Regions from separate parts of the Homo sapiens genome. Here region 2 is linked to region 1. The links come from fine-mapping of genetic effects on gene expression. A gene starts in region 1. The other region holds a variant in brackets. All regions are shown on one strand. Distances are between the middles of the regions. Region 1 holds the start of SGF29 (SAGA complex associated factor 29). Region 2 holds the start of SULT1A2 (sulfotransferase family 1A member 2).

Region 1 (16,084 bases):
GCTGCATTTGCAAGTTTTCTTGGCTGTGTGATATCATCGTTTTAAATATCAGTGGATGCTGTCTTTTTTTTTTTTTCTTTGAGATGGAGTTTTGCTCTTGTTGCCCAGGCTGGAGTGCAGTGGCGCAATCTCGGCTAGCTGCAACCTCCGCTTCCCGGGTTCAAGCGATTCTCCTGCCTCAGTCTCCCTAGTAGCTGGGATTACAGGCAGATGCCATGATGCCCAGCTAATTTTTGTATTTTTAGTAGAGACGGGGTTTCACCATGTTGGTCAGGCTGGTTTCGAACTCCTAACCTCAGGTGATCCGCCTGCCTCAGCCTTCCAAAGTGTTGGGATTACAGGCATGAGCCACTGCGCCCAGCCAGATGCTGTCTTTAATGGGTGGTTTGGCAACATTGATAAGATTTTGAAATGCTTATATCCCCCTGATATTGCAGTCCCACTTTCAGGAGTCTCTCCTACAGAAATCTTCCCAGAGGTGAGTAAAGAGGCAGGTACAAGGAAGTTCATTTGTTTGTAGTAGTGAAAAACAGGAAACCCAGCCTGGGCAACATAGCGAGACCCCATATCTTAAAAAAAAAAAAAAAAAAAGACTGGCATGGTGGTGTGTACTTGTAGTCCCAGCTACTCAGGAGGATGAGGCAGGAGGATGGCTTGAGCCATGATGGTGCCTCTGCACTCCAGCCTGGGCGACAGAGCAACACCCTGTCTCTAAAAAAAGCAAAAACCAAAAATCGGAAACAACCTAAATGTCCATCAGTAGGTGACTGATCAGTTTCCTTCTGTGAAACACTGTAGCCATTCAATACTCTTTAGAGAGAGAATGTATCTCTATCTCTGATGAGAAAGATGTCCATAATACATTCCTAATGAAAAACACAGGTTGCAGAACATCATGTACACTACAAATTATATTTTTGCATTAAATGTATAGATAACTATGAGTAATACACAGTTTTCACCATAATAGAGGTGTGACATTTTCTCCTGACAACTAAAATAGACAGCCACATAAAACACAGTAGTAGAAAAACCTAGAATAAGGCTGGACGCGGTGGCTTATGCCTGTAATGCCAGCACTTTGGGAGGCCAAGGCATGTGGATCACCTGAGGTCAGGGGTTTGAGATCAGCTTGACCAACATGGTGAAACCCCGTCTCTACTAAAAATACAAAATTAGCCGGGCTTGGTGGCACATGGCTGTAATCCCAGCTACTTGGGAGGCTGAGGCAGGAAAATTGCTTGAGCCCAGGAGGTGGAGGTTGCAGTGAGCTGAAATTGCGCCATTGCACTCCAGCCTGGGCAACAAGAGCGAAACTCTGTGTCACACACACACACACACAAAAAAAAAAAAAAAAAAAAAAAAAAAAGGAAGGAAAGAAAGAAAGAAGAAAAGAAAGAAGCAAAAAATCTAAAATAATAAATTTTATTACTGATGTCTTCTGGGAGATCAGCAAACCCGACCCCATTTAACAGAAGAGGAAAGTAAAGACCAGAGAGGCATGCATTCTCCAGTCTGCAAATGTTTAGGGTACTAACCATGTGCCAGGCACTTGCTTGGTGCTGGGACTATAAAAGTAAACATGGGGCCGGGCGTGGTGGCTCATGCCTGTAATCCCAGCACTTTGAGAGGCCGAGGCGGGTGGATCACCTGAAGTCAGGAGTTCGAGACCAGTCTGGCCAACATGGTGAAACCCAGTCTCTACTAAAAATACAAAAAATTAGCCAGCGTGGTAGTGGGCACCTGTAGTCCCAGTTACTCTGGAGGCTGAGGCAGAAGAATCGCTTGAACCCGGGAGGCGGAGGTTGCGGTGAGCCGAGATGGCGCCATCACACTCCAGCCTGGGCAACAAAAGCAAAACTCCATTTCCAAAAAAAAAAAGTAAACTTGGGCCAGGCGCAGTGGCTCTTGCCTGTGATCCCAGCAAGATAAGTATGTGATCACATACATTGGCAAGTATGGGATGATTCAGTACATATATCAATACTCTTGCATAGAAAAAAAGGAAATGGCTGGACCTGGTGCTGTAATCCCAGCACTTTGGGAGGCCAAGGCAGGCGGATGGCTTGACCCCAGGAGTTTGAGACCAGCCTGAGCAACATGGCGAAATTCCCATCTCTACAGAAAATACAAAAGTTAGCCAGGTGTGGTGGCTCGTGCCTGTGGTCCCAGCTACTCAGGTGGCTGACGCCAGAGGATCACCTGAGCCTGGGGAGGTCATGGCTGCAGTGAGCGGTGATTGCGCCCCTGCACTCCAGCCTGAGCAACAGAGTGAGACCCTGGCTCAAAACAAATTTTTTTTACAAAAACAAAGAAAGAAAGAAAGAAAGAAAAACGGAATATACATGGCTTGTGCTTACCAGGTGTAGACATAAAGATTTTTCCAAACCCTCTTGCTTAAAATGTATCTTTAAAGAAACGATTACTTTATAGTATAGATTTTCCTTCAAGTTAAAATTTTTATAGCAATTGGGTCATGCCATAAAGCTCTTAAATATCTGGAAATAATTTTAAGGGAGCATTTTGGGACAGGGCAGTGGGAGCAGTCCCCTACCCTGATCCAGGCTGTCTATAAAGAACTTAATAATTAAACTGATCCAAATCATTCTGCCTTTTATTATCACTATCAATTCTCAACAATGTCAGTAATAAAATATGCCTCCCTGCCACTGCGAACTGCTCCTAGGGAGTCCTCCTTACCTCTTAGCACTGTTAAAAAAAAACGAGGCCAGGCGTGGTGGCTCACGCTGTAATCCCAGCAATTTGGGAGGCTGAGGAGGGCACATTGGTTGAGCCCAGGAGTTTGAGACCAGCCTGGGCCACATGGCGAGACCTCGTCTATACAAAAAAATACAAAAATTAAGACCGGGAGCGGTGGCTCATGCCTGTAATCCCCACACTTTGGGAGGCTTAGGCAGGCAGATCACTTGAGGTCAGGAGTTCCAGACCAGCCTGGGCAACATGGTGAAACCCCTGTCTCTACTAAAAATACAAAAACTAGCCCAGCATGGTGGCACCTGTAATCCCAGCTACTCAAGAGGCTGAGGAAGGAGAATCACTTGAACCCCAGGAGGTGGAGGTTGCAGTGAGCCGAGATCGTGCCATTGCACTGCAGCCTGGGCGACAGAGCAAGGAGCTGTCTGAAAAAAAAAAAAAGAAGAAAAAAAAAACCCACCACACACAAAAAGCAAAAATTAGCTGTGTGTGGTGGTGTGTACCCATAGTCCCAGTTACTTGGGAGGCTGAGGAGGGAGGATCGCTTGAGCCGGGGAGGCAGAGGTTGCAGCGAGCCAAGATTGTGCTACTGCACTCCAGCCTGGGTGACAAAGCAAGACCCTGTCAAAACAAAACAAAACAAAACAAAAAAACCACACAAAAACCCCTGAGGTATCCATATTAGCCATTGATTCAGCCCATTCAATTTCTTTTATAGACAGTTTGATTAGTCAAGATCATACTTACAAAAAAACCCATAAAAATGTCTACCGTCCTAAACTTATCATATTTAAGCTCCAGTGAAAATTCTCAAATATCAAATCTGTTTCCAGCTGGGGTCACTGATATCTGATGTCCAATGCCGTCACTTCTGGGTTTTCACGTTCACCAGGGCTGGTCCTGGTCGTCTCCTCCACTGGGCTGTCTGGCCCATGCCCCACGGGGTCAACATGGAGGGGTCTTTAACACCCAGGTGTATGTCAAAAAAACAAGGGAGGGCAACATCGTGCTGTAATTTTTGGTTGGGATAACAATTCAGGTTTCATCTGCTCTGGCTGACTTTCTGCCTGAGCGCCCCTGCATGGAGGCACGCTCATCCAGCCGCCTGGTGGGTACCGGACTTCAAAGGTGGAGTTCTGCTGAAGGTCAAGAGGATCCCAGGGCTCAGTCAGGGGGACCTTGGAGCTCAGCTTGGCGGTTTGTCCAGCCTGCAGCATCAGTCCATCCTCTTAGGGAAGATGTATTCAAACAGTCTCTTGCAGGTCAAGTGCGTCTTCCTGGTGTCCTGATGGGTGGGGTGGTGGGTGGAGACCTGGGACGGCTTTGCTGCGGAGTGTAACGGGTGTAGACGGAGTGCCCTGAAAACAATGCGTTGTCCCACCCCACCCACCCCTGGGCCACAGACACCGTCCCCTACCCTCCCACCTCGGGCCAAGGGGCCGTGCCCCCCTACCCCATGCCCCAACCCATGTAGAATGAAGCGAGCCCAGACATCATTGTCGCCCTCCGCAACGGTGCATCTGTGCTCCCATTTTTGCAAGAAAAATTATTTTCTTTTTCTTTTTCTTTTTTTTTTGAGACGGAGTCTCACTCTGTCCCCCAGGCTGGAGTGCAGCGGCATGATCTTGGCTCACCGCCTCCACCTCCTGGGTTCAAGCGATTCTCCTGCCTCAGCCTCCCAAGTACTGAGCAGCTGAGATTACAGGTGCGGGCCACCACGCCTGGCTATTTTTTTTTGTATTTTTAGTAGAGACGAGTTTCACTATGTTGGCCAGGCTGGTCTCAAACTCCCGACCTCAGGTGATCCCCCCACCTCGGCCTCCCAAAGTGCTGGGATTACAGGCGTGAGCCACCGCACCTGGCCAGAAAAATTATTTTCATTATTGAAAATAAAAGTAGGGGGGGCAATGAGATGTAAACCAAACTCTCCAAAGTGGTTATATCCTAGACTGGGGTTCTGGATAATTTTTACTTTCTCCTTTATGGACTCCAGATCTCTGTAGTGTTGGACTTTTGCACAATGTATATCAGAAAAAAAGGCAACATTTAAGAGTTAATGTATTTCATCTTTTTCCTTTTGGATTGCAGGCACACTATGCCACCTTCTGGTCATGATATGGCTACGTGTGCCTGCAGCGGGGACAAAAACCATTAAATTGTGAATAGTTACAATTTCCTCTTTGCCATGGGAGGTCAGATCCTGAGAGAGCTGTGTGTGTGCGCGCGTGTGTGTGTGTGTTCTGAGAAATGGTCTCACTCTGTTGTCCAGGTTGGAGCGCAGTGCAGCGGCGTATTCACAGCTCACTGCAGCCTCAACCTCCTGGGCTCAAGTGATCCTCATGCCCCACCTCCCTGTCCCCCACCATACCCGGCTGATTTTTTTTTTCTTTGAGACAGAGTCTTGCTCTGTCACCCAGGCTGGAGTGCAGTGGCACAATCTCAGCTCACTGCAACCTCTGCCTCTCGGGTTCAAGCGATGCTCCTGCCTCAGCCTCCCTAGTAGCTGGGACTACTCGGCTAATTTTTTTTATTTTTATTTTTTATGAGGCTGGAGTGCAGTGGCACCATCTCAGCTCACTGCAACCTCCGCCTCTTGGATTCAAGCGATTCTCCTGCCTCAGCCTCACCAAGTAGCTGGGATTACAGGCATGCGCCACCACGCCCAGCTAATTTTTGTATTTTTAGTAGAGACAGGGTTTCACCATGTTGGCCAGGCTGATCTCAAACTCCTGACCTCAGGGGATCCACCCGCCTTGGCCTCCCGAAGTGTTGGGATTACAGGTGTGAGCCACTCCGCCTGGCCTGATTTTTACTTTTTTTTGAGACAGAGTCTCACTCTGTCACCCAGGCTGGAGTGCAGTGGCACGATCTCGGCTCACTGCAAGCTCCACCTCCCGGGTTCATGCCATTCTCCTGTCTCAGCCTCCCGAGTAGCTGGGACTACAGGCACCTGCCACCACGCCTAGCTAATTTTTTGTATTTTTAGTAGAGACGGGGTTTCACCGTGTTAGCCAGGATGGTCTCGATCTCCTGACCTCGTGATCCGCCCGCCTTGGCCTCCCAAAGTGCTGGGATTACAGGTGTGAGCCACCCCGCCTGGACTGATTTTTAAATTTTTTTTTTTTTTTTTGAGACAGAGTCTCGCTCTGTCACCCAGGCTGGAGTGCAGTGGCACGATCTCGGCTCACTGCAAGCTCCACCTCCTGGGTTCATGCCATTCTCCTGTCTCAGCCTCCCAAGTAGCTGGGACTACAGGCGCCCGCCACCACGCCTGGCTAACTTTTTGTATTTTTAGTACAGACAGGGTTTCACCGTGTTAGCCAGGATGGTCTTGATCTCCTGACCTTGTGATCCACCCACCTCGGCCTCCCAAAGTGCTGGGATTACAGGTGTGAGCCACCGCGCCCGGCTAATTTTTAAATTTTTTGTAGAGATGAGATCTCACTCTGTTACCCAGGCTGGTCTTGAATTCCTGGGCTCAAGCGGTCCTCCTGCCTCAATTTCAGTAGTAGCTGGGACTACAGGTGCATGCCACCACGCCTGGCTAATTAAAAAGATTTTTTTTGTAGAGACAGGATCTTGCTATGTTTTCCAGGCTAGAGTGCAGTGGCACAATCATAGCTCACTGTTGCCTTGAACTCTTGGCCTCAAGTGATCCTCTAGCCTCAGCCTCCCAAAGCAGTGGGATTGTAGGCATGTGCCACTCTGGCCCGAATAGATGAGGGGAGATCATTTAAGATGGCATTGCTCAGTCTCACTAGTGGGCATACATCTCAGAGAAATCTTCATATAGACCGCAGGGGAATAAGCATGAGGTTGTTCACTGTGGCATTGTTTGTGGTAGCCAGTAGTAGTTGGAGGCAACTTACAGGTCCATCATAACTGAAATGTTGCTGCCCACTTCGAAATATTGCATGGTTGCTGTAAGTCATAGGTAAAGTGTGCCCACAATGACAGGTGTTGAAAGCAGAGGGCTGAGGCCTGGCGCGCTGGCTCACGCCTGTAATCCCAGGAAATTTGGGAGGCTGAGGTTAGTGGATCACCTGAGGTCAGGAGTTTGAGACCAGCCTGGCCAACATGGTGAAACCCCATCTCTACTAAAAATATAAAAAATTAGCTGGGCGTCGTGGCGCGCGTCTGCACTCCAGCCTGAGTGACAGAGTGAGACTCTGTCTCAAAAAAATTTTTAAAATAACAAATAAATAGAGAGGCCGTGCAGAGCCCAATGACGAAGTGTGTCATTAAGTAGAAATAAGTAACTCAACCTTAGCACCAGCGATTAAAAAACAGAGAACCTTTGCAGTTGTTTAGGGAAGATGTCCCTACTTTGGCCTAGGGTGGATGTGGTGGAGGTGAAAAGTAGGTGGATTGTGTTATATGAATGAATATGTGTAAAGGATTTTGAACAGTGCCCGGTGCATAGCAAGTGCCTAACAAATGTGTTTTTATATTGCAGACACGTGGTGGATTGAATGAGGGAGGGGAGGGAAAGGGTGATGTCAGGGATAACCCCCAGGTGCTGGCTCAGGACATTGTACTAAGTAGGAGGTGGGACATGAAAACTGAGTATAGATGATTCTTTTGAGAAATGTGGATGTGGAGAAGACAGAGCAATTCCTTACATGTGGACAACACTCTAAAACACTTTTTAAAAAGTTAATAAATACATGTTTATTGTAGAAAAATCAGAAATTAACGATAAAATTTTAAAACAGGGCAGAGACCAAAATAATTTAAAAAACAACTGTAAGCTCTACATCTCTCCTGATCAGTGACTAGGGTTGATTTTTTAAATTTATTTTATTTATTTATTTTTTGAGACAGAGTCTTGCTCTGTTGCCCAGACTGGAGTGCAGTGGCGCAATCTTGGCTCACTGCAACCTCCGCCTCCTGGGTTCAAGTGGTTCTTTCCTGCTTCAGCCTCCAGAGTAGCTGGGACTACAGGTGCGTGCCACCATGCCCAGCTAATTTTTGTATTTTTAGTAGAGACATGGTTTCATCATATTGGCTAGGCTGGTCTCAAACTCCTGACCTCGTGATCTGCCCACCTCGGCCTCCCAAAGTGCTGGGATTACAGGCGTGAGTCACCACGCCTGGCCTAGCTAGGGCTGATATTTAACAATCAGGAAAAAGAGCCCCTGAGACCTTTACAAATGCAAAATTTGCAAAATCCCTCAAAGCATAACCTTCATAAAAGGCAGTAAGTAGAACTGCAGCTGGGTGGATGGGCATGTCATTCACTGACCTGACGCCCACAGAAAGAACTGCAAGTGTGATGGAAGAAAATGATGCATTAATTTTGGGGTTAACATAGTTTCAGTGCTAACGCCTGAGATTCTCTAATAAACAGAAAAATACTGACGGGGCTGAGGTTGGTGGCTCATGCCTGTAATCCCAGCACTTTGGGAGGCTGAGGCAGGAGGATCGCTTGAGCCCAGGAACTCAAGACCAGCCTATGCAACATAGCAAGACCCCCATCTCTACCAAAAAAAATTTAAAAATCAGCAGAATGTGCTGGTGTGTGCTTGTAGTCCTAGCTACTCAGGAGCCCTGATGGCACCACTGCACTCCAACCTGGACAACAGAGCGAGACCCTGTCTCAAAGAGAAAAAAAAAGAAACATGTGATGGCCAGGCACTGTGCTAGGTACTAGGAATACACAGGTGAACACAAGATGATCCCAATCTCATAGGACTTGCAAGTTTATCAAATAATCAACAAATAATTACAGACATTTGTAGGTTATGTAAGAAACTTTAAGATACCAGGATGGCTTTCGATAAAATACCATTGAGGCTACATGTCCATTGCACGTCCATATCCTTAGTACTTTCCTGAGAAGATTCCCTAGAAGTGCGATTTCTGGGTCTAAAGATCTGCTTGTTTTTTGTTTGTTTGTTTTTTTGAGATGGAGTTTCCCTCTTGTCACCCAGGCTGGAGTGCAATGGTACAATCTCCAGTCACTACAACCTCCGCCTCCTGAATTCAAGCGATTCTCCAGCCTCAGCCTCCCCAGTACCTGGGATTACAGGCACCCGCCACCACGCCCGGCTGATTTTTGTATTTTTTAGTAGAGACGGGGTTTCACCATGTTGGCCGGGTTGGTTTCAAACTCCTGAACTCAGGTGATCCGCCCGCCTTAGCGTCCCAGTGTTGGGATTACAGGCGTGAGCCACCGCGCCCGGCCTGTTTTTAATTAATTTTTTAACAACAGACTTTTATTTTTTAGGGCATTTTTAGGTTCACAACAAAATTGAGCAGAAAGTACAGTTTTCATATTACCCCTGCGCCCACCCACCTCCAGCAAGCAGCAATCTGTTCGCTTTCAAGTTTTATTTATTTATTTATTTATTGCATTTTGTTTTAAATAGAGTCTGGGGAAATGGGAGAAAACGCTGAAAACGCACAAGCACTTTGGTTGGTTAAATTAGGGTTCCGCCAAGAGCCGGAGCGGTGTGCCAAGTGAAAACTACATTTCCCACGGGGCAGCGGGTCACGTCACAGAGGAACGACTACGCATGCGTGCAAGGTCCTCCGCGCGCGACTACGCTCATAAAAGGAAAAAAAAGCGTGTGCGGTTCTCGACGTGCCGCCAATCTTCGAACGCAGGTCTGTGATCATCCGCAGACTCCGAAAAAGGGTTCGAGGAACGCGCCTGCTCCCCTCGTCGCAGTTTCCAGCCCGACGAGCTTGTTTTGTCCCGGACTCGGTAGGTGGCGACGGGCCGTGGCCTGAGACCTCCGGCGAAACGCGGGAGCGAAGGGCTGAGTCCTCCCTCCGCGCCGCGGCTCCCGACCTCCCTGAGGCGGCGCTCTAGGGGCGGTGCGCACGCGCTCTGGGCGGGAGGGGGGCGGGGCTCGTGGGGGTGGGGGCGGGAGAGGAGGGCGGGGCCGGGGCTCGGGGAGGGCGGGCCCTGCGCCCGGCCGCTCGAGGTCTGCGCTTGCGTGCTTCCATCCCCGGCGAGGGTGGGAAACAGCGACACGCTGGGCTCGGCACGGACGCAGCTTCCAGGTGGGGTACTCGGACCCGGGTCACGAAGATGCGGACAGAGGATGGGCCCCGAACTCCAGCACTTATTTTATGATTTGCACAAAAATTTTGTATATATATATAGTTCTTAACAAGATACACTAACAGCTCGTCGTTTGCCCAGGAGGCTCAACCTCCCGCCTCGGCCTCCCAAAGTGTGGGGAGTATAGGCGTGAGCCCCCGCGCCCGGCCAAAAAATGCCCGTCTTAAGAACAACAAAACAGCCTCCTTCACCCTCGCTATCCTCCAGTTACCTCCTCCTCGGCTCCGGTTTGCAGCCAAAGGCCTTAGTCTACCCTCACTAATGCCTTTTCTCCTCCAAGTCTTGAACCCTTGAGCCTCTAGTCAGGCTTTGGTCTCCACCACTCCACTAAAAAGGCTTCTTGTCAAAGCCACCAGTGATCTCTAGGTGGCCAAATGCATTGTTAAGTTAGGTCTCAGTCCTGTTCAGCATTTGATGCTGTGGATCACTGCCCCTCCTTGAAACACTGTTTTCATTTGGCTTGCTGAACGTTCTCTTCCTTTGCCTCTGCTCTCTCTGGCTTCTCCTCTGCTGATTCTAACCTAGGCATCATCTCACATTTTTGTTTTTATTAGAGACACGTTCTCTGTTGCTCAGACTGGAGAACAGTGGTGTTATTACAGCTCACTGCAGCCTCAAACTCTTGGGCTTAAGCAGTCCTCCTAACCAAAGCCTCCCCAAATGCTGGAATTACAGGCATGAGCCACCGCAATCCCAGTTTCACATTTTAAATGTAAATACTGGCCAGGCGCGGTGGCTCATGCGTGTAATCCTAGCACTTTGGGAGGCCGAGGTGGGCAGACTGCCTGAGCTCAGGGGTTTGAGACCAGCCCGAGCAACGTGGTGAAATCCAGTCTCTTCTAAAAAAAAAAAAAAAAATTAAAAAATTAGCCGGGCGTGGTGGTGCACGCCTGTAATCCCAGCTACTTGGGAGGCTGAGGCACAATAATCACTTAAACCCAGGAGGTGGATGCTGCAGTGAGCCAAGATCGTGCCACTGCACTCTAGCCTGGGTGACAGAGCAAGACCCTGTCTCAAAAAAGAGTTCTAGAGGTGGAAGAAAATCCACATATAAGTGGACCTGCACAATTAAAACCTGCATTGTTTGAGGGTCAACTGTATAGCTATTTTAAAAGAGATTTATTGTGATGGATTGGGTGACACTATTATAGAGGCTGAGAAGTCCCGAGATTTGCCATCTGCAAGCTGGAAGCCCAGGAAAGCAAACCCTCAGGAAACTCACAGACACACTCTAAAGTGTTTCACCAGCTATCTGGGAATCCCCTAGCCCAATCAGTTTGACACATAAAGTTAACCATCACATTTCCCTAGCTTTGTTTTTCAGTTGCCTCAATCATCATTTTACTGGTGATACTTTGAGTGTTGTCATAATAGCCTAATGGTGGGTTGGCAGCTTCCACTTTTGTGATCTCTTTTACTATTGAATATGCTGAAGTCGTGACACAACTTGGAATTCAGAGGAAGAGCATAGGTTTTAGAACTTGCAGCCTTGCAGCCCCAGCTCAACTACCTATTTTTCCTGAGTTACCTAGCATAACCTATCTGAATTTCAGTTTCTTCACTATACTTACTATTCTGTTATCTATTTTATAGGATTGCTGTAAGGTTTAAATGAGAAACACTGGCATAAGTTGCAATACAGAGGCATGAAGGAAAAAAATTGTCTTCTTAATGTCTCTTTAACCAATTGATGAATATAGATTCTATTTATTTATTTATTTATTTTTGAGATGGAGTCTCGCTCTGTCACCCAGGCCGGAGTATAGTGGTGCAATGTCAACTCACTGCAACCTCTGCCTCCCGGGTTCAAGTGATTCTCCTGCCTCAGCCTCCTGAGTAGCTGGGATTACAAGCATGCACCACCATGCCTGGCTAATTTTTTGTTTGTTTGTTTGTTTGTTTTGAGACGGAGTTTCACTCTTTGTTGCCCAGGCTGGATTGCAATGGCGCAATCATGGCTCACTGCAACCTCCGCCTTCCGGTTTCAAGCGATTCTCCTGCCTCAGCCTTCCAAGTAGCTGTGATTACAGGCATGTGCCACCACACCCGATTAATTTTGTATTTTTAGTAGAGACAGGGTTTCACCATGTTGGCCAGGCTGGTCTTGAACTCCTGATCTTAGTTGATCTGCCGGCCTTGGCCTCCCAAAGTGCTGGGATTACAGGTGTGAGCCATTGCGCCCAACCTACTTATGTTTTTTTTAGAAACAAGGTCTTACTCTGTCACCCAGGCTGGAGCCTAGTGGTGCCATTATAGCTCATTATTCCCAAATTCCTGGGCTCAAGTGATCCTCCTGCCATAGCCTCCTGAGTAGCTAGGACTACACATGTGCACCACCCTGCCCAGCTAATTATTTTATTTTGTTTTTGTAGAGACAGGGCCTCCGTGTGTTGCCCAGGATGGTCCTGAACTCCTGACTTCAAGTGATCCTCCCATTTCGGCCTCCCAAAATGCTGGGATTACGGTCATGAGCCACTGCACCCAGTTTGCAGATTCTCATTGCTAGTGACTGGGTTGAGAGTGTGGGATGTGAGTGTGGGGTATTAGGTTCCTCTTTCCCTTTGACCCAGAACAAAGCTCTTACTGTTTTAAGCCCTGTGGGATTAATCTTAGAGTGGCTTAAGTGTAGGATATTTGGATTTGTTTATTTGAGGCCTTTTATGCTATTATAGTAAAAGGGCCAGCAATTTTAGGCTGGGTATTAGTGGTTAACATATGCTTCTACCCTGCAGCCTTTGTCCCTCAGAATTGGCTATCTCTTCAGACCGTGCTTAATGAAAGTTCTTATTAGTCAAGCTACTCAGTTGCAGATAACAAAAAGCTACTCTGACTAGCCTAAGCTGAAAGGGGTGTTTGTTGACTCTGTGATATTGTAAAATATATATCTGGTTTGTATCCCAGTTTGGAGCTTCCTGGAGGGTGGCGTGCCCAGGGTGGGTATGGAAGCTCTTCGCTCCTTCCCACATGCTTTGCCCTGTGCACCTCTTCCTTCATCTGTATCCATTGTGACATCCTTTATAATAAGCCAGTAAACCTAAGTGTTTCCCTGAGTGCTGAGAGCTGCTCCTGCAAATTAATGGAACCCAAGGAGGGAGTCATGGAAACCCTGATTTATAGTCAGTTGGTCAGAAGCACAAATAAAGCAACTGGGGGCTTGTGACTGGCATTGAGAATTGGGGGGACATGCTCGTGGGACTGAGCCCTCAACCTGTGGGGTTTGACACTCTGTCTGGGTGGATAGTGTTGGAAATAAACTGAATTAGAGGACATCCAGCGTGTATCCACTGCAGACTCAATGGATTGATTGGTGTTGGGGAGAAATCTCCACACATTTGGCCACGGAAATCTTATGTGTTGATTATCCTATATTGTGACAGCAGAGGAGAAAGTTTTGTTTTTTCCTCACAGACTGTAGCTGAAGAGTCCTGGAGTAAATCAGTTTCAGATGGGACTCTATCCAGAAGCCTAAATTATGTCACCAGTATTTTCTGTTTTTCTTTCTCTGTTTTTTTTTTTTTTTTTTTTTTTTTTCAGAGACGGGGTCTTGCTGTGTTTCCCAGGCTGGTCTTGAACTCCAGGCCTCAAGAGATCCTCCTGCCTCAGCCTCCTGAAAGCTGGGACTACAGGAGTCCACCACCACACCTGGGTACTTTTTTTTTTTTTTGAAACGGAGTCTCGCTGTGTCGCCAGGCTGGAGTGCAGTGGTGCAGTCTCGACTCACTGCGACCTCCACCTCCCGGGTTCAAGTGATTCTCCTGCCTCAGCCTCCCAAGTAGCTGGGACTACAGGCATGCACCACCATGCCCAGCTAATTTTTTTTTTTTTTTGTATTTTTAGTAGAGATGGGGTTTCACCATGTTGGCCAGGCTGGTCTTGACCTCTTGACCTCATGATCCACCCGCCTTGGCCTTCCAAAGTGCTGGGATTACAGGTGTGAGCCACCACGCCTGGCTGCACACCTGGGTACTTTTTATTTTTGGTAGAGATAGAGCCTCGCTATGTTGACAAGTCTGGTCTCAAACTCCTGGGCTCAAGCAATCCTCTGTACTTGGCCTCCCAAGGTGTTGGGATTACAGGCATGAGCCACTGCGACCCGCCTGTTTATTGGTTTTGTTAAATGCCTTGTCATGAGGCATTAAAAAGCCCATGATGGAAAGAAGATAGCCCCAGAGAAGGGATTCCAAATTCTTCACAAATTCTTCAACAGATGAGTGGATTAAAAACGACATCTATCCATAGAATGGAATGTTATTTAACCATAAAAAGGAATGAAGTTACTGATACATGCTGTGACATTGATGACCTTTGGAAACATGCTAAGTGAAAGAAGCAAGTCACATAAGGTCACAGTACAATTCTATTTATATGAAATGTCTAGAATAGGCAAATCTACAAATATGAATTAGAATAATGGCTGCCAGTGACTGAGAGGAGAAGGGGGTGGGGAATGACTGCTAATGAGTATAAGGTTTTAAGGAGAGTTGGTGAAAATGTTCTAAAATTAGATAGTGGTGATATTTGCACAACCTTGTGACTAACATAACACTGAATTGCACACTTTAAAAAAGTGAATTGGGGTGGGTGCGGTGGCTCACATTTTTAATCCCAGCACATTTTGGGAGGCTGAAGCAGGAAGATTGCTTGAGCCCAGTAGTTTGAGACCAGCCTGAGCAATATGATGAGACCTCATCTCAACAGAAAATTATAAAATTAGCTGGGCGTGGTGGTGCACACCTGTAGTCCCAGCCACTTGGGAGGCTGGGGCAGGAGGATTGACTGAGCCAAAGAAGTCAAGGCTGCAGTGAGCTGTAATTACACCACTTCACTCCAGCCTGGGCAATGAGAGTGAGACCCTGTCTCAAATAAGTAGATAGAGAGATAGAGAATTGTATGGCATGCGAATTATCTTCATTAAGCTGTTTTTGTTGTTGTTGTTGTTTTGAGACGGAATCTCACTCTGTCACCCAGACTGGAGTGCAGTGGTGCGATTTTGGCTCACTTTAACCTCCGCCTCCCGGATTCAAGCGATTCTTGTGCCTCAGCTTCTCAAGTAGCTGGGATTACAGGTGTGTGCCACCACACCCAGCTAATCTTTGTACTTTTTTAGTAGAGACAGTGTTGGCCAGGCTGGTCTCGAATTCCTGGCCTCAAGTGATCTGCCCACCTTGGCCTCCAAAAGTGCTGGGATTACAGGTGTGAGCCACCGCACCCGGCCCATTAAGCTGTTATTTTAAAAAGTCTGCCTAAACCTCTGAACTAGACAAACATGGGGCATATTCCAAGCAACTTAGCCAAGTTTAAAAGATCAGTACAGATTTCAGCTGATGCTTGCCTCAGGGAAGCTAGATTTGGAGTTTGAGTTCAGCTGTGATTAACTGCATGTTAACAGAAACAAAACACCAAACTCTCAAGAACATAACAGAATCCAGAGTCTACAACACATCATCTACAATGTCCAGGATATAATCCAAAATTCTTAGACACAAGAAATGGCCTGGGCATGGTGTCTTATGCCTGTAAACCCAGCACAGCACTTTGGGAGGCTGAGGCAGGCAGATCACTTGAGGACAGGAGTTTGAGACCAGCCTGGCCAACATAGCAGAACCCCTTCTCTACTAAAAGTACAAAAAAATTAGCTAGGCGTGGTGGTACACAGGAGGCTCAGGAGGCTAAGGCACAAGAATTGTTTGAACCCAGGAAGTGGAGGTTGAGCTGAGATCGTGCCACCACTCCAGCCTGGGCAACAGAGCAAGACTCTGACTCAAAAAAAAAAACCACGAAAATTTTAAAATATATTTTTACAAAACAGGAAAATATGATCTGTGTTCACAAAAAAAGGCAATGAATGGGCCCGGCACAGTGGCTCACGCCTGTAATCCCAGCACTTTGGGAGGCTGAGGTGGGTGGATCACGAGGTCAGGAGTTCGAGACCAGCCTGACCAACATGGTGAAACCCCATCTCTACTAAAAATACTAAAATTAGCTGGACGTGGTGGCGCACACCTGTAATCCCAGCTACTCAGGAAGCTGAGGCAGGAGAATTGCTTCAACCTGGGAGGAAGAGGTTGCAGTGAGCCGAGGTTACACCATTGCACTCCAGCCTGGGCAACAGAGCGAGACTCTGTCTCAAGAAAAAAAAAAAAAAGAACGAAAATTTTAAAATATATTTTTACAAAACAGGAAAATATGATCTGTGTTTACAAAAAAAGGCAATGAACGGGCCCGGCGCAGTGGCTCACGCCGGTAATCCCAGCACTTTGGGAGGCCAAGGCAGGCGGATCACGAGGTCAGCAGATC
Region 2 (16,084 bases), 44 kb after region 1:
TTTTGCCCAGGTTGGAGTGCAATGACGCGATCTCGGTTCACTGCAACCTCTGCCTCCCAGGTTCAAGCGATTCTCTTGCCTCAGCCTCCCAAGTAGGTGGGATTACAGTTAAAGACGCTCGCCACCACACCTGGCTAAGTTTTGTATTTTTAATACAGACGGGGTTTCACCATATTGGTCAGGCTGGTCTTGAACTCCTGACCTCAGGTGATCCACACTCCTCGGCCTCCCAAAGTGCTGGGATTACAGGCGTGAACCACCACACCCGGGCAGATTTCTAGTTTCACCATGAGGTTGGTCTGAATAACCCAGCCCACCTTGACCAGAACAGGAACCTGCACACACCTGTCATTCCACCTGCGCAGGAGGCTACTGTGAGAACCTCTGGAGTCCGGGACCAGCCTGGGCAATGTAGCTTGACCCAAAACAGAAAAAATGGAAGAGAAGTCTATGCTATGTACGTTAACCAAACCCTCTTTCTCCCTTCTCCCCGCCCTCAGCATCCTTCGGAAAGCTCTGGACAAGATCGCGGAAATCAAGTCTCTGTTGGAAGAGAGGCGGATTGGTGAGTGGGAGAGAACATGCTGGGAGGTCCTTTGCTAGGACAAGAGGAGAGGCCCTGCGGGCAGCAGTCACCCTCCTGTGGGGGCCTGTGGCCACCACCTGCTGGCATCCTCCCATGGAGGCTCTGGCAGACTGGCTCTACCACTGAGAAGGGACAGGAGGTCATTCCCAGTGCCCAGAGGCAGGGGTTTCCCAGTTCTCCCTCAGCAGCCAGAGATCATCCCGCCCTGGCCCCTCATCTCCTGCCCCTTCTGGGGCCTGGGCCAGTCGCCCCCTCCTCTGCCATGGCCCATGCCCATCTGTTGCCCTGGCTGGTTTCTGCAGAGCCACACGCTGTGTGTCGTAAAGCCAGCCTTCCAGACCCCCTCAGCCTGCATTAGGCTCTCCTACCTGTCTGCCCTCCCAACAATCCCATGGTGGGCAGAATCTTGGCATGTCAGTGTCCCCACACAGCCATGCTGGTTCTGTGTGAAGTCAAGTGGGGTGTCCAGCTGTGCCTGAGGAGGTTGAAGGTGCACATTTAATTTTTTTTTTGGTTTTTTTAACTTTCTGTTGAATTACAATGTATATTAATAGAAGAAAAGTACACATAAGTGCAGAGTTCAATGAAATAGTCACTAACTGAACACACTTCTGTAACCAGCATTCAGATCAGCAAACACAGCCTGAACAGCACCTTGGAACCCGCTTTCTTTCTTCTGGTTCCTCCCCCTGGATCCCCGCTGTGCTGCCATCTCACCCAACTGTAGTTAAACCCAGCAGCCCCTATAGGTGCTGACACATGGCCGATGGGGTCACAGTCCTGCTGGGCCCTCGGGCTCACTCGGGAACTGGGGGCTCCCAGGTGCTCCTTCAACAGCTCAGTGCAGCATGCTCGGGGGTCAAGGCCGGCACCTATCCCTGGGGCCTCAGGCCTCCCTTCCTTCCCACAGCGGCCAAGATTGCCGGTCTCTACAATGACTCGGAGCCACCCCGGAAGACCATGCGCAGAGGGGTGCTGATGACCCTGCTGCAGCAGTCGGCCATGACCCTGCCCCTGTGGATCGGGAAGCCTGGTGACAAGTGAGGGCAGCAGCTGCGAGGGAGGGGCTGGTGCCCAGGGGCTGGGACTGACCCTTTGTTCCACTCACAGGCCCCCACCCCTCTGTGGGGCCATCCCTGCCTCAGGAGACTACGTGGCCAGACCTGGAGACAAGGTGGCTGCCCGGGTGAAGGCCGTGGATGGGGACGAGCAGTGGATCCTGGCCGAGGTGGTCAGTTACAGCCATGCCACCAACAAGTGAGTGACACCAACCCTGGGGCTGCTCTCTGGTCACCGAACTTGCCTGGGCTACGGGAGAAAAGCTCTGCAGAGGGTGCTCCCCAGAGGCTGGTTGTGCAGGGAGCACCAGGTCCTCCCCCATCCTCACTCCCCAACAGGTACTGCGCCCCTGGCTGCATCCAGCCTTTTCCTCCTTTTGTCTGCAGGTATGAGGTAGATGACATCGATGAAGAAGGCAAAGAGTGAGTGTCCAGGCCAGGGCAGGGCATGGAGCCTGGGGGCAGCCTAACAGCTGAGAAGGAGCATCCCCACCCGGCCACAGGTTGATATAAGCCCCTCTTCCCCCAGGAGACACACCCTGAGCCGGCGCCGTGTCATCCCGCTGCCCCAGTGGAAGGCCAACCCGGAGACGGACCCTGAGGCCTTGTTCCAGAAGGAGCAGCTCGTGCTGGCCCTGTATCCCCAGACTACCTGCTTCTACCGCGCCCTGATCCATGCGCCCCCACAGCGGGTAAAGCAGCCTCCAGGGGAGAGGCCATGGGTGATGTCAGGAACAGGCTGATCAGACAGACGAGGGGTCCTCTCCCCACTCCTTCCCTTTGTCCTCATCTCACAGGCTCCAAGCTGACAGGACCCACCAGCTGCCCTCCCTCTTCCACTCCAGCCCCAAAGGCCACCATCCCTTTGCCAGCCCTGGCAGCCTTGGCAAGCCCCGAGTCAGTGGCTTCCAGCCCCAGGAGAACCAGCTCCGAGATGGGAAGCTCCTGCCCTGAGCCCTGGGCTCCTACCGCCTTGTGCTCTTGGTGACATGGGACACAAGCCACCTGAGGCCAGGATCCCTGCCTGCCACCCTCTGGGTTGCCCTCAGTCCTCTCAACAAAGAGTCCTTGAAAGGCAGCAGACCCTCCAGCTATGACCCCACTAGGAAGGGAGTCAGCACCCCTACTCCTCCCTGCCTATTCCCTGCCTTGGGTCTCCAGCCACTGAGAAAAGAGCTCTGTAGCAGCAGGGACTGGGCCAAGACTTCTTGACCCCAGAGTGAAGGATGTTAGGAGTGGCTGAGAGTCCACGGCCCAGAGCCTCCTGTGGTCTAGGCTGGGGGAAGGGGGTGCCTGTCCTGGCCTGGGGGTCTCTGAGCAGCCCCTCCTGTCTGCCTGCCCCACAGCCCCAGGATGACTACTCGGTCCTGTTTGAAGACACCTCCTATGCAGATGGCTATTCCCCTCCCCTCAATGTGGCTCAGAGATACGTGGTGGCTTGTAAGGAACCCAAGAAAAAGTGATGCCGCCTGGCAGACTCGCCATCCCCCAACGACACAGGGCAGGACAGCAGAGGACGTGCTGGGATTAAACACATTCCCCCTCTACTCGTCTCCTGGGTTTTACTTCTCCAGACCCTCTCCCCTCTCCAAACAGGGCAAGTTGAGGAGCTGGAGCGGGGAGGTGGCCGTATTTGGCCCCAGTGGGCGATCACTCTTTCAGCTCAGGGTTTCTCTTGGCTTGGAATAGAGACTCTGCATTGAACACAAATCATACTTTATTCTGGAGCCTCTTGGTCAGGCTTGATTCGCACACTCCCTCTGCAGTGACTCCAGGAACCCCTCTCACAGCTCAGAGCGGAAGCTGAGGCTGCAGCCTGCCATCTTCTTCGCATAGTCCGCATCGAAGCGCTCATTCTGCGCCACGGTGAAGGTGGTCTTCCAGTCCCCAGCCATGCCTGGGGGAGGAAGGCAGGGAGCAAAGCTGGAGTCTCATCCCAGGGGAGGCCCCGAGTGCCTATGGGGAGGCTCCAGCTGCTGCTCCCACCTGCTCCAAACCCCCGTGCTGGCCGGCACCTACCTTTCCTCATGAAGGGGGAGATGCTGTGGTCCATGAACTCCCGGCGGACGGTGGTGTAGTTGGTCATAGGGTTCTTCTTCATCTCCTTGAACGACGTGTGCTCAACCATGAGGTCCACAGTCTCCTCTGGCAGGGAGCGCCCCACAAACTCCAGGATCTTTTGAATCTCCCTTTTGGGGTTCTGAGCAGCAGAGGGCTCCTCAGTGGAGGCTTGGATTGCTGATTCAGGAAAATAAAAGGGGTCCACTTCTCTAACCTCAGAGGGGAACTGGCCACTTCCACTTCAAAACCCATAGAGCCAGCTCCTCGACCCCTGGGACCCCAGTCCCTGGGGCAAAATGAATTGCTGTCTGCCCTGTGATCCCATCATGAGCTGGGCTTGGCTCCTATGGGTAAGGACTGGGATGGTCTTCTTCCGTGCCTGTGGCCCTGGGTGGCATAACCATTGGCAGGGAGAAGCAATTGGAATAGATAGCTGATCTGTGGCAAGGGGCCGTGGTTCAGGCGTGTAATTCCCAAGACTTTGGGAGGCTGAGGCAGGCGGATCACCTGAGCTCAGGAGATGGAGACCAACCTGGCCAACATGGCACAACACAAAAATTAGCCAGGCATGGTAGTGTGCATCTGTAATCTCAGCTACTCAGGAGGCTGAGGCAGGAGAATCACTTGAACCTGGGAGGGGGGGTTACACTGAGCTGAGATCACACCACTGCATGCCATCCTGGACAACAGAGCAAGACTTTGTCTCAAAAAAAAAAGTAGCTGATCCATGGCCACCCGTGCAGCTGACTCAGGCACAGGAGATGAGAGCTGTGCCCAGCCTGCTGCCACATGGGGCTGCAGTGGGGCCTGGGCCAGGGAGTCAAGATGGGGAATCCGGGCCTGCTGGAGGGGCCGCCCAGGGAGGGTGGCTGGGTGGCCTTGGCAGGTCCCTGTGAAGTGCCTGCCCCCAGGTGTCACGTGGAGGGAAGCATCAAAGGCGGTCTCACCTCCTTCATGTCTTCATAGAAGAGGTAGAGAACAGGGTGGGTGCGGCTCAGCTCCCACCACTCTTGCACGTGCTGGTACCAGGACCCATAGGACACTGGAGAAGCGGGCAGGGAGTGCCGACACAGGGTTGCTGTGCGTTGTAGCCACCACCCCTTAGCTCCACACCTTCCTTCCTCCCATCAAGCCCACCTTCTCCAGCCATGAACTTCTCCAGGAAGCTTTCCCAGGTCCCAGGGTGAGGGTACACTTTGGCCATGTGGTAGAAGTGGTAGTAGGAAACCGCCACATCCTTTGCGTTGCGGGCAACATAGACCACCTGCAGGGGCAGAAGACTCAACCCCAGCACCATCACCACACAGCCTGCCCCAGGCCAGCTCATCTCTTGGTTTGGCAAAGGAGGAAGCTGAGGCTTAGAGGCTGACTTGTTTGAGATCTCACGGCACAGGTAGGGCCAAGTCAGGATCTGAACCCTGCTCAAAAGCCAAAGTCCTGCCTGGTCCCTGAGACCATCATATTCTATAGTAATATAATCTGCATCAATGCGTCACACCCCGATCTGGAGCAAGGCATGCTCCACCAGGCATGTTCCCACCACCACCAAATTTTGTGGGCCTGTGAGGACCCACCCTCTACCTTTCTTAGGTCTACCCGGAAGAGTCTCATGTTTTTGGTCATCAGAGCAAAAGGCAGACAGTCCCCCCCGTGGAAGATGAGACAAGTCTGGAGGAAGTGAGGCGACTCTCCCAGAAGAACAGGACCAAAGCTGGGCTGAGCCGGGGCCTCCTTCCCTGGATTCACATGCCCCACACCTGGACCTTTGCTTTTTTCTTTTTGTTGTGGTTTTTTTTTTTTTTTGGGGGGGGGGACTCTAGGTCTCAAAAAAAAGAGAAAAGAGAAAAAAGACCTTGGGCTTTCTTTTTTCCTGTTGCCCAGGTTGGAGTGCACTGGAGTGAGAATAGCTCACTGCAACGTTGACCTCCCAGGCTCAAGCAATCCTCCAACCTTAGACTTTTGAGTAGCTGGGACTATAGCGCTATGCCACCATGCCCTGCTGATTATTTGCATCTTTTATAGAGATGGAGTCTCCCCATGTTTCCTGGGCTGGTCTGGAACTCCTGAGCTCAAGCGGTCCACCCATCTTGGCCTCCCAAAATGCTGGCATTACAGCGGTGAGCCACCCAGGTGGCAAACCTTTTAAAATATTTATTTGTTTTGTTTGAAACAATGTCTCGTTGTGTCTCCCAGGCTGGAGTGCAGTGGCACAATCTCGGCTCACTGCAACCACCGCCTCCCAGGTGCAAGCTATTCTCCTGCCTCAGCCTCCCGAGTAGCTGGGATTACTGGCGCCTGCCCCAACGCCTGGCTAATTTTTGTATTTTTAGTAGAGACGGGGTTTCTCCATGTTGGCCAGGCTGATCTCAAACTCCTAACCTTGGGTGATCTGCCCACCTCGACCTCCGAAAGTGCTGGTATTACAGGCGTGAGCCACAACAGGCCCAGCCCCCTGCCACCTGCCGCTTTTTTTTTTTTTTTTTTTTTTTTTTTGAGACAGAGTTTTGCTCTTGTTTCCCAGGCTGCAGTGCAATGGTGAGGTCTCGGCTGACTACAACCTCTGCCTCCCAGCTTCAAGCAATTCTCCTGCTTCAGCCTCCCAAGTAGCTGGGATTACAGATGCCTGCCACCATGCCCGGCTAATTTTTTTGTATTTTTAGTAGAGATGGGGTTTTGCCATGTTGGCCAGGCTGATCTCAAACTCCTAGTCTCAGGTGATCCACCTGCCTCAGCCTCTTCAAGTGCTGGAATTACAGGTGTGAGCCACCGCACTGGTGGGACACTCTTTCTATTCATCGTTTTTTGAGACAGTGTTTCTCTGTCACCCAGCCTGGAGTGCACTGGTGTGATCATAGCTCACTGTAGCCTTAAACTCCTAGGCTCAGATGATCCTCCCACCTCAGCCTCCTGAGTAGCTGGTATTACAGGCACACACCACTATGCACAGCTAAGTTTTTTTTTTGGAAGAGACTTATCTGGAACTTCTGGCTTCAAGGGATCTTCCCACCTCAGCCTCCCAAAGTACTGAGATTGCGGGTGTGAACCACTGTGCCCAGTCTCACCTTGACCTTCTGATCCAACAGAGTCTGGGGGAGCAGAGCCAGGGGCAGGTGTGTCTTCAGGAGTCGTGGGGCTGGTGTGTTTTTCAGAGTCTCCATCCCTGAGCAGTGGGTCAGGGAAGGTCTGGTGAGCTGAAGCCCCAGCCCTGTCTTCCTCCACTCCCCTTGCACCCAGGACACACACACCTGAGGGAATCCCTGGGACTTTGAACTCAAGGAAGGGCACCCGCATGAAGATGGGAGCTCGGTGACACTTTTCCAGGTCACCGCCCTGGTAGATCATGTCCAGAATCTGGCTCACCCAGGTGGTGCCTGGAGAGGGAGGGAGATGGGAGGTGAGCAGGCTGAGGTGAGCATGACCTCGCTGGCCAAGGTGGGGACTGCCACCTGGGAGAGGGTGGGTGGCCCTCCTCACCTACCGGACTTGGGGTAGGTGCTGATGAGCAGGTCATCAGGCCGGGCCTGGAAGCTCTGCAGGGGCCCCAGTGCCTCTGCAAAGTACTTGATGAGC[G/A]GGACCCCCTTCACGTACTCCAGTGGCGGGCGAGAGATGTCCTGGATCAGCTCCATGTTCCTGCGTCAGGGGCCAGAGCCAGGCCCGTTCCCTTACCACCATCACAACAGCAAGAAAGTGGAATTCTTGCTTTCAGGGAAGTCACTGAGGCCTAGGGAGGCTGAGTGACTTGCCCGCACTCACAAGGCCAGTCAGTGGCGGGGCTGGGGCTGAAAACCAGGTCGGGCTCTAATGTGGTGGTTCCCCAGCCTGGCCTCACCTTTCATTCACCTGCGGAGCTGTTCAAAATCCCAGGGCCTGGGCCATGGTGCAGACCAGTGAAAGCACCCTCGTGGCGCGGGGCCCAGATGTCAGGGTGTGTGAAGGTCTCCAGGAGAGTCCAGCTGCACTGAGGAACCTCTAGGACCTTCCTGTGCTGTCTTCCTGCCAGCCAGCGCCCTTTGTCTCACCATTTCCTGCTGGGACCCCCAGCCTCCACCCAGTAGGCTCCTCTCCCCGATGTTCCCCTCCTTGAGCCCCTCGGCCCCTCACATGTGGCAACTCCTAGGCTGGCCAGGCCTGTGATCCACTTGCCCGGCCACAGTCCATCTGGGCTCCAGGACAAACAGCCCATTGAGCAACTGAGCTGGTATTGGGGGCCAGAGCCTGATGTGGGAATGAGCAAAACTGTGATGACTCAGCAAAAGGAGGATCCTGGGCAGGGTGGCTCCCACCTGTAATCCCAGACCCTAGGGAGGCTGAGGCCAGAATTTGGAGACCAATCTGGGCAGCATTGGAAGACCCCATCTCTAAAAATCTTTTAAAAATATTTTTTAAAACTATCCAGGCAGGATGGTGAGGGTCTGTAGTCCTAGCTACTGAGGCAGGAGAATCACTTGAGCCCAGGAATTCAAGGCTGCAGTGGCCAGGATCCCACAGCACTCCAGCCTCGGTGACAGCAAGACCTGGCCTCCCCGGAAAAAAAAAAAAGGAAGGGAGGGGGATTCAGGCCGGCCGGGGTTGTCTGAAATGGGATATCCATGGGGAGAGGGCAGGGATAGCAGAGGCCTCGGCTTCTGGAATGTTGGAGCCACAAGCTGAGCAGGGTGAGGGCGTCCTGGGCCATTCCGGTGTGTCACTCACCTGAGCTCTTGGGAACCTGGCCTTGTGCCCTCCTCGCCCGCAGTGGCTGAGTGTGGGTGTTGTGTGGGGAATGCAGGGGTGTTGTCTGTGCTGAGGGTTTCTTAGGTCAGTGTGGGAGGGATCTGGAGCCGGGGCTGGACTTAGATTTGCTTCCGGAAGGAAGGGGTAGGGTTGGGGGTGGGGGAGCTTCTCTATTACCCTCCTTAGTTTGCCAGCTGGAGACAAGCTTAAAGTGATCTCCAAAGCCACGACTGGGTTTGGTGTGTAGAAAACAGAAGAATGAAAGGGGAAAGGGCCCAATGGTGGGTTTGTTTTTGTGGGTTTTTTTTTTTGAGCTGTCACTGGGCTCCTGACCTGCCCCTGAACTCCAAAAGACAAGCTTTCTCTAATTGACCCAGGCAAGAGAGGGGAGGGATTGGAGGAGAAAGATGGGATAGGCAGGCCCTGGAAAGGTCACCTACCTGCTGGCTCCAGGCCAGTCTTGAAGGTGCCAGGGGTCCTGGCCCAGTGCAACCCACAGGCCTCCAGCAGCCCATGCACTCCAGGCTCTGACCACAAGGCCAGTCTGGAGTGATGCGTGTGGGCAGAGTGAAGGGGCAGGGGTGGAGCAGAGCATGGATCCATAGAACAAGAAAGAACAAGGACACTGCAGTCCCATTGCCCTGGGAGCCAGCCCCAGCTTCATGGCTCCCTGGGGACCTCACAGAACATCGATAGAAGATCCTAGAAGAACCACAGCCCCTGGCAGGTACTTTTCTTTCCATGGGTTTGAAGGAGGCTCCACAGACAGAGGCCAGAGGAGGTTGAGGCTTGGAAGCCACAGGGCCCCGTGGAAGGAGTGCATCCCCCCACCCTCCTCGTTCTTTGTCCTCACTATTTAAAGTCCAGGGTCAAGCTGGGCACGAGACAGGTAAACAACCATCTGAGTAAAGGTGAGTCTCCCAAGCCTTCCCAGGGTTGCGTGAGCTCAGAGGCAAGCGGGGAAAACTGAGGCATGGGATTTCCAGGCAGAGGAGAGGCTGCTCCCCTGCTAGGGCCACAGGCCCCTCCTCCCTCCTCTGTGCCCCTGAGGAATCCCCATGACTGGCAGGTCCTCCGGCTACTAGCTCCACCCCTGCCCTCAGCAACCTTCAGGAGGCCCTCTTGACTGAGACTTTGTATTGCACTCTAGTGAAAACCAGCCGGACCAGCAGGGGGTGGCACAGAAAAGAGGCGAGAATGTGAGATTAATAGAGTGCTAGCAAGACAACAGAAAATCCCAGGCAGCAGTTTCACATGACCAGAAGAAGGAAACTTGAAATAGCTGCATGTGCCAAGGGCCAATAAGTCCCTGAAAAATAGGATGAGGACCAAGCTGGCTGCGACCAACCAGAAGCAACATGGCGCTGTATTTGATGTAGGTTTCACCTAGGATCTCACTGTACAATCAGTAACATATGAAACCGTACACCCACCAGTGCCAAGACGGCTCCAGGAACACCTGTATTTGGGTGTAAATTGTGGCACCACGGTCTTGAGAAATCTTTACCTTTTCCTGGAATCTTCATGAATATACCCCTCTTTAGTTGAAGAAGCCCATAAAGGTCAGCCCCACACCTTGTAGGGCATGAGACACTCTCTTGAGGACCCCCACGTTCCTCTTCTTCAGTGAGTCCCTTTACTCTGCAGGAAATCTGCCTACGTTCATGACTTTTGCACTTGTCCTTAAATTGTTTCTGGCTAAGGTGCCAAGAGCCTGGAGAAGGCCTGGCACGGTGGCTCACTCCTGTAATCCCAGCACTTTGGGAGGCCGAGGCAGGCAGACCACCTGAAGTCGGGAGTTTGAGACCAGCCTGACCAACATGGAGAAACCTTGTCTCTACTAAAAATAGAAAATTAGTCAAGCCTGGTGGCACACGCCTGTAATCCCAGCTACTTGGGAGGCTGAGGCAGGAGAATCGCTTGAACCCGGGAGGCGGAGGTTGCGGTGAGCCAAGATCACGCCATTGCACTCCAGCCTGGGCAACAAGAGTGAAACTCGGTCTCAAAAAAACAAAACAAAACAAAAAAAAGCGTGGAAACGGGCTGAGGTCGATGTCCCACCGGTCTTTGATGACCTCCCCTAGGCCACCAGTATCTGGAGGGGATTAGGGACACTGAGCTCCAGCAGGGCTATCCAGTGTGCCTGCAGAAACAAGGTTGGTCACAGGCAGCCCAGGACAGGGAGTGGGGTAGGGAGGCTGGGGCCAAAGCCCACTCACGTCTTCTAATTCCGAGTCTTCCACTATTTCCCCCGTGCTCATCCATCACAGCCAGATCAGGTCACCCAAAGCAGTGACGCCTCACAGCTACCAAGGCATGGGGCCAGAGAGAGAGACAGAGTCAGGCATCACAAGCCCCCTCCAGGCTCAGCCCTGAATACCAAGATCAGGACACGGCTGCCCCGGCCTGGATTGCACAACTGGGCACCCTCTTCCCAAAGCTGGACCAGGCTGGGGCCGGGGGACTGCACTCAGCTAGGGCATTGGCCCTCTAGGGGCAGAAGCTGCCCTGGTTCTTCCGGAAGGAACTCCTCTCACAGGCAGATCACGTGGGCTCTTAGCCAACAGCCAGGGTTGGGGCAACACAAGGGCCCCGCTTCATCCTGTCCCAGGCAGCAGGCAGGTAAGAGACAAGGAGGGAGAGGCAGCTGGCAGCAACCCCTCTATGCAGCAGGCACTGTTCCGGGCATTACACAGCTCCATCCCGTGAGGCAGAGGTGACTGTTATTTGCATCTTACAGATGAGGAAATGGAGGTGGGGGTTTAAAATCCTTGCCCCTGGGACTAAGCTGGTGCAGGTCCTGGGAGCATCAGCAGTGATTGATTGAGTCACAGCCTCACCACTGCAGCCAGACCTGAACTTCCTCACAGCTCAGCAACACCCAGCAGGTCACTGAATGTCCCCAGGGCAAGTCCTCTACTCACTCACTATTAGCGGGTGCTCAGTAGAAGGCACCCGTTTTCCATTATTTTATTAACTATTTCTTGGCTATCGTCTCTGTGCAGGACTTTGTTCTACAGCAGTGACAAGAGCTGCCCTCGGGCAATGTAGTGCAAAGGTTGGGGTGGGAGAGACTAACGAGAGTCATAAAGCACCTAGCCGGTGAGATAGTAAGTATTCAGGTAAAGAAGCAGACGGGGAAGTACACAAGAGGTGCAATTTTATTTTATATTTTTAGAGACAGTTTCTTGCTCTTTTGCCCAGGCTATAGTGCAGTGGAGCGATCAGAGCTCACTGCAGCCTCCAACTCCTGGGACCAAGCGATCCTCCCACCTCAGCCTCCCCCCGTAGCTGGGACTACAGGCATATGCCACCATGCCCGGCTTCTCAGAGCTGCAATTTTAAATCGGGAGATAGAGAAGACCTCCCTGTGGAGGTGGCAGGTTATCAAGATAGGTGTAGAGAAGAACCTTCCAGTCAAAGGGAAAAGGCAGGTCCTGCTGTGCTCAGGAATGGCCAGAAATACTATCATCCCCATCTTAGAGACGGGGACAGGGCCGCAAAAGTGTCAGGGCGTTTCCTGGCTCCTCAACAAACAGCTGGATCCGAAGTGGTCTGGGGGATGAGCCGCCCTGCCTGGGGCGGACCTCCCCTGGAGCTCAAGGGCTCGCAGGGCGCACAGGCCTCTTGGGCCCCGGGTCCGGCTCAGGCTCGGGCTTGGTGCCAGCAAAGGGACCTGCGCGGTGCCCTGGGGCCGGGGAGGCCCGAAGGCCATCGCCCGTGCGGCGCGGCGCATAGAGGTCCCGGCGGAGGTCGGGGTGCAGCGGGAGTAGGAGGCGCGCCTATGGAGGGGGTTCCAGGCCCACTCCAACAGCGGCAGGATACGGAGGAGTTAGGGCGGCTCCAGGCAGGGGGGCGGACCCCAAGCCCTTGCCCGCCTGCCGCCGCCTGGTCTCCTTCCTTACCCGAAGGGTTGCCACGGCGGGCGGGAAGCCGTGCACGACGAGCACTTTCTCCCTGGGGAGGAGAACGGGGGTGTCCCTGTGAGCCCTGCCGCGCCCAACCGCGGGTCCCCTCCAATTCCACCCGAGAGCGGGGTCCTCACTGCCGGCTTCAGCCTAGCCCCAGGCCCTGCCCCTAAATGAAGTCACGCCCCCTGAACCTGCCCACCTCAGGCCGCGCCTCCAGCCCAGGTACCCACCTGTCCCCCCTCCTCTCCCTCCTGCGCTCCATCCGACCCCAGCATGCCCACCAAGACCCCTACGCTGGCCCGCATCCTGGATCATCACCTCCGCCCCAGCCAGCTCCTCCCCGGAGTTCCACCGCCAAGATTCCCAGGGCACTGTCTCCCCGTCATGCTCCTCCTCTGTGACAGTCCCGTCCCCACCCTGGACTCCCCACCCATGTCACAGGCATGCCCCTCCCTCTCATCAGGCTTGTGCCCAGCGGGGTCCGCCTCCTCCAGGAAGCCTTCCTCCTGGCACAGAGACCCTTCCGGTCTCACCAGGAGTGCAATGGCCCGATTTGGCTCACTGCAACCTCTGCCGCTGCCCCCTGCCCCATCTTTCAAGCAATTCTCCCGCCTCAGCCTTTCGAGTAGCTGTAATTACAGGCACGTGCCACCATGCCCGACTAATTTTTGTATTTCTATTACAGACGGGGTTTCACCATGTTGGTCAGGCTGGTCTCGAACTCCTGACCTCAAGTGATCCAACCGCTTTGGCCTCCCAATGTGTTGGGTTTACAGGCTTGAGCCACCGCGCCAGGCCTGGGCCCTGCCTTTTGTGTGGTCCCCATTGTGCTGCTGGACCTGACAAGCAGGGCTGACAGTGAACCCCATATAAACGTGGCCCTGATGACGGGGGTTCAGGCCTTAGAGCAGGTAGATGCTGAAGAAGCGCCCCGGCCTAGCCGCGACTCCCGTGGAACTCTTTGAATTTTAGGAAATTCTCCTTAAACACACTTCTGGTTCAGCACCGACATCAAGAAGAGAGCCTCTCCAGCACCTGCAAACTCACTTTGTCCCTCCCTGGTTCTTCCCGCTGGGCGCCCACTATGCTGCGGTCTCGCCCATCTGTAGCTGAGCCCAGCAGCCCCTGTAGGACACCTGGCCGAACGGGTCACAGTCCTGCTGGGCTCACTCGGGAGATGGAGGCTCCCAGGGGCTCCTCCAACAGCCCCAGGGCTGCTCTCTGGTCACTGCACCTGCCTGGGCTGCCACTCTGCTTCTCATCTGCACAGCAGGAGAAAAACTCCACAGAGCGTGCTGTGGGCGGGGCCGGCTGTGCAGGGAGCACCGGGTCCTCGCCCTGCCCCTGTCCTCCACACTCCCCTACAGGGACTGTGCCCCTGGCTGCATCCTGCATTTTCCTCCTTTTGTCCACAGGTATGAGGTAGATGACATTGATGAAGAAGGCAAAGCGTGAGTGTCCAGGCCAGGGCAGGGCATGGAGCCTGGGGGCAGCCTACCAGCTGGGAAGGAGCATCCCCACCCGGCCACAGGTTGACACAAGCCCCTCTACCACCAGGAGACACACCGTGAGCTTGCGCCGGATCATCCCGCTGACCCGGTGGAAGGCCAACCCCGAGACAGACCCCGAGGCCTTGTTAGTCAAGGAGAAAACCATGTTCTCAGGATGCTGTGACCTTGGTGACAGCACGGCCAACACAGGAAGCCTCGGCATTCACCTGGTCACTGAGCTCATTCAAGCAAAGCGATCTCCAGTAGGGACTTTCCCTTTTGAGAACATGTGCAAAGGGTCAGCAAACTGACACTTTGCTCATTTTAATAGTAAAAACCATACCCCTGGGTGGAGATTTAAGATGCTAATGAGACATGAGTCCTAGGAGCAAGCATGTATAGCAAATGCGCATGTGCACCCAGAGGACCACCCAGAACATGCTTACTAGTGATGCCTCTTCCCACCCATTATGAAGAGTTGTGTGAGACTCCCATAAAGGGAGTTTTTCCTGCAGTAATCAACACCGTCCCAACCTGACAAGCAGTCCCTTCTGAACTCGCTCAAGGTGTATTGTCTATTCTGCAATTAACTTTCAATATACTGTTTTCTTTTGCAATAAGTTATTCTATGCTCCACTTCTTTTGCTGTGTGTCTCTTGTTTAAATCATTTTATTTATTATTATTATTATTATTATTATTATTATTATTATTATTATTATTATCTTAGATGGAGTCTCACTCTGTGGCCCAGGCTGGAGTGCAGTGGCACAATCTCGACTCACTGCAACCTCTGAGTCTTGGGTTCAAGCGATTCTCCTGCCTCAGCCTTCTGTGTAGCTGGGATGATAGGGCTCACCACCACGCCTGGCTAATTTTATATTTTTAGTAGAGACAGGGTTTCGTCATGTTGGCCAGGCTGGTCTTGAACTCTTGACATCAGGTAATCCACCCCTCTCAGCTTCCCAAAGTGCTGGGATTACAGGTGTGAGCCACTGCGCACCGCCTACTTAATTTATTTTAACCCAAGAGGACGAGAACCCAGGTATCACAGAGTGTCCCCAGACAGATTGACACAACCTGCCAGGAGACACACCATGAGCTGGCAGTCATGGCATCAGTGGAAGGCCAACCCCCAGATGGACCCCAAGGCCTTGTTCCAGAAGGAGCAGCTCATGTTGGCCCTGTAACCCCAGACCACCTGCTTCTACCGTGCCCTGATCCATGCGCCCCTACAGCGGGTAAAGCAGCCTCCAGGGGAGAGGTCATTGGTGACACCAGGAACAGGCTGATCAGAGAAGCTAGGGGTCCTCTTCCTGCTCTGTCCCCCTTGTCCTCATCTCCCGAGCTAATGGGACCTGCCAGCAGCCCTCCCTCTTCCACTCCAGCCCCAAAGGCTACCGTCCCCTTGCCAGCCCTGGCAGCCTTGGCAAGCCCCAAGTCAGCGGCTTCCCTTCTGCAGCCCCAGGAGAACCAGCTCTGAGACAGGAAGCTCCTGCCCTGAACCCACGGCTCCTGCCCCCTCATGCTCCTGGTGACATGGGACACAAGCCACCTGAGGCCAGGATCCCTGCCTGCCACCATCTGGGCTGCCCTCGGTCCTCTGAACACAGAGTCCCTGAAAGGCAGCAGACCCTCTAGCTATGGCCCCACTGGGGAAGGAGTCAGCACCTCTTCCTCTCTCCACCTTTTTCACTGCTCTGGGCCTCCAGCCACTGAGAAAAGAGCTCCATAGCAGCAGGGACTGGGCCAAGACTTCTTGACCCCAGAGTGAACAATGGCAGGAGTGGCTGAAAGTCCACGGCCCAGAGCCTCCTGTGGTCTAGGCTGGGGGAAGGGGGTGCCTGTCATGGCCTGGGGATCTCTGAGCAGCCCCTCCTGTCTGCCTGCCCCACAGCCCCAGGATGACTACTTGGTCCTGTTTGAAGACACTCCTATGCTTGAGTGTCTTCAAGCATTCCCCTCCCCTCGGCGTGGCCCAGAGGTAGGTGGTGGCTTGTAAGGAGCCCAAGAAAAAGTGACGCTGCCTGGCGGACTCGCCATCCACCAACGACACAGGGCAGGACAGCAAAGGATGTGCTGGGATTAAACACATTCCCCCTCCACTCGTCTCCTGGGTTTTACTTCTCCAGACCCTCTCCCCTCTCCAAACAGGTCAAGTTGAGGAGCTGGAGCGGAGAGGTGGCCGTATTTGGCCCCAGTGGGCGATCACTCTTTCAGCTCAGGGTTTCTCTTGGCTTGGAATAGAGACTCTGCATTGAACACAA

What was found. PIP is the estimated chance that this variant, and not a neighbour inherited with it, causes the effect.
Region 2: its variant is fine-mapped to the expression of SGF29 in whole blood (INTERVAL, PIP 0.97).

The regions. Positions count from the first base shown.
Region 1 is chr16:28,544,674-28,560,757 of GRCh38, forward strand. SGF29 (SAGA complex associated factor 29) reads left to right here and starts at 9,247. Exons shown (of 10, transcript NM_138414.3): 1 at 9,247-9,424. RefSeq lists an enhancer at 9,216-9,535 and a silencer at 9,556-9,675.
Region 2 is chr16:28,588,600-28,604,683 of GRCh38, forward strand. SGF29 (SAGA complex associated factor 29) reads left to right here. Exons shown (of 10, transcript NM_138414.3): 5 at 501-565; 6 at 1,497-1,626; 7 at 1,697-1,843; 8 at 2,032-2,067; 9 at 2,174-2,336; 10 at 2,991-3,191. The coding sequence ends at 3,107. It overlaps SULT1A2 (sulfotransferase family 1A member 2), which reads right to left and starts at 8,451. Exons shown (of 8, transcript NM_001054.4): 1 at 8,398-8,451; 2 at 7,184-7,335; 3 at 6,951-7,076; 4 at 6,768-6,865; 5 at 4,843-4,969; 6 at 4,653-4,747; 7 at 3,664-3,844; 8 at 3,344-3,541. The coding sequence starts at 7,331. The coding sequence ends at 3,429. RefSeq lists enhancers at 8,389-8,683, 10,317-10,851, 10,852-11,385, 12,219-12,733. The variant G/A (reference allele first, on the strand shown) is at 7,276.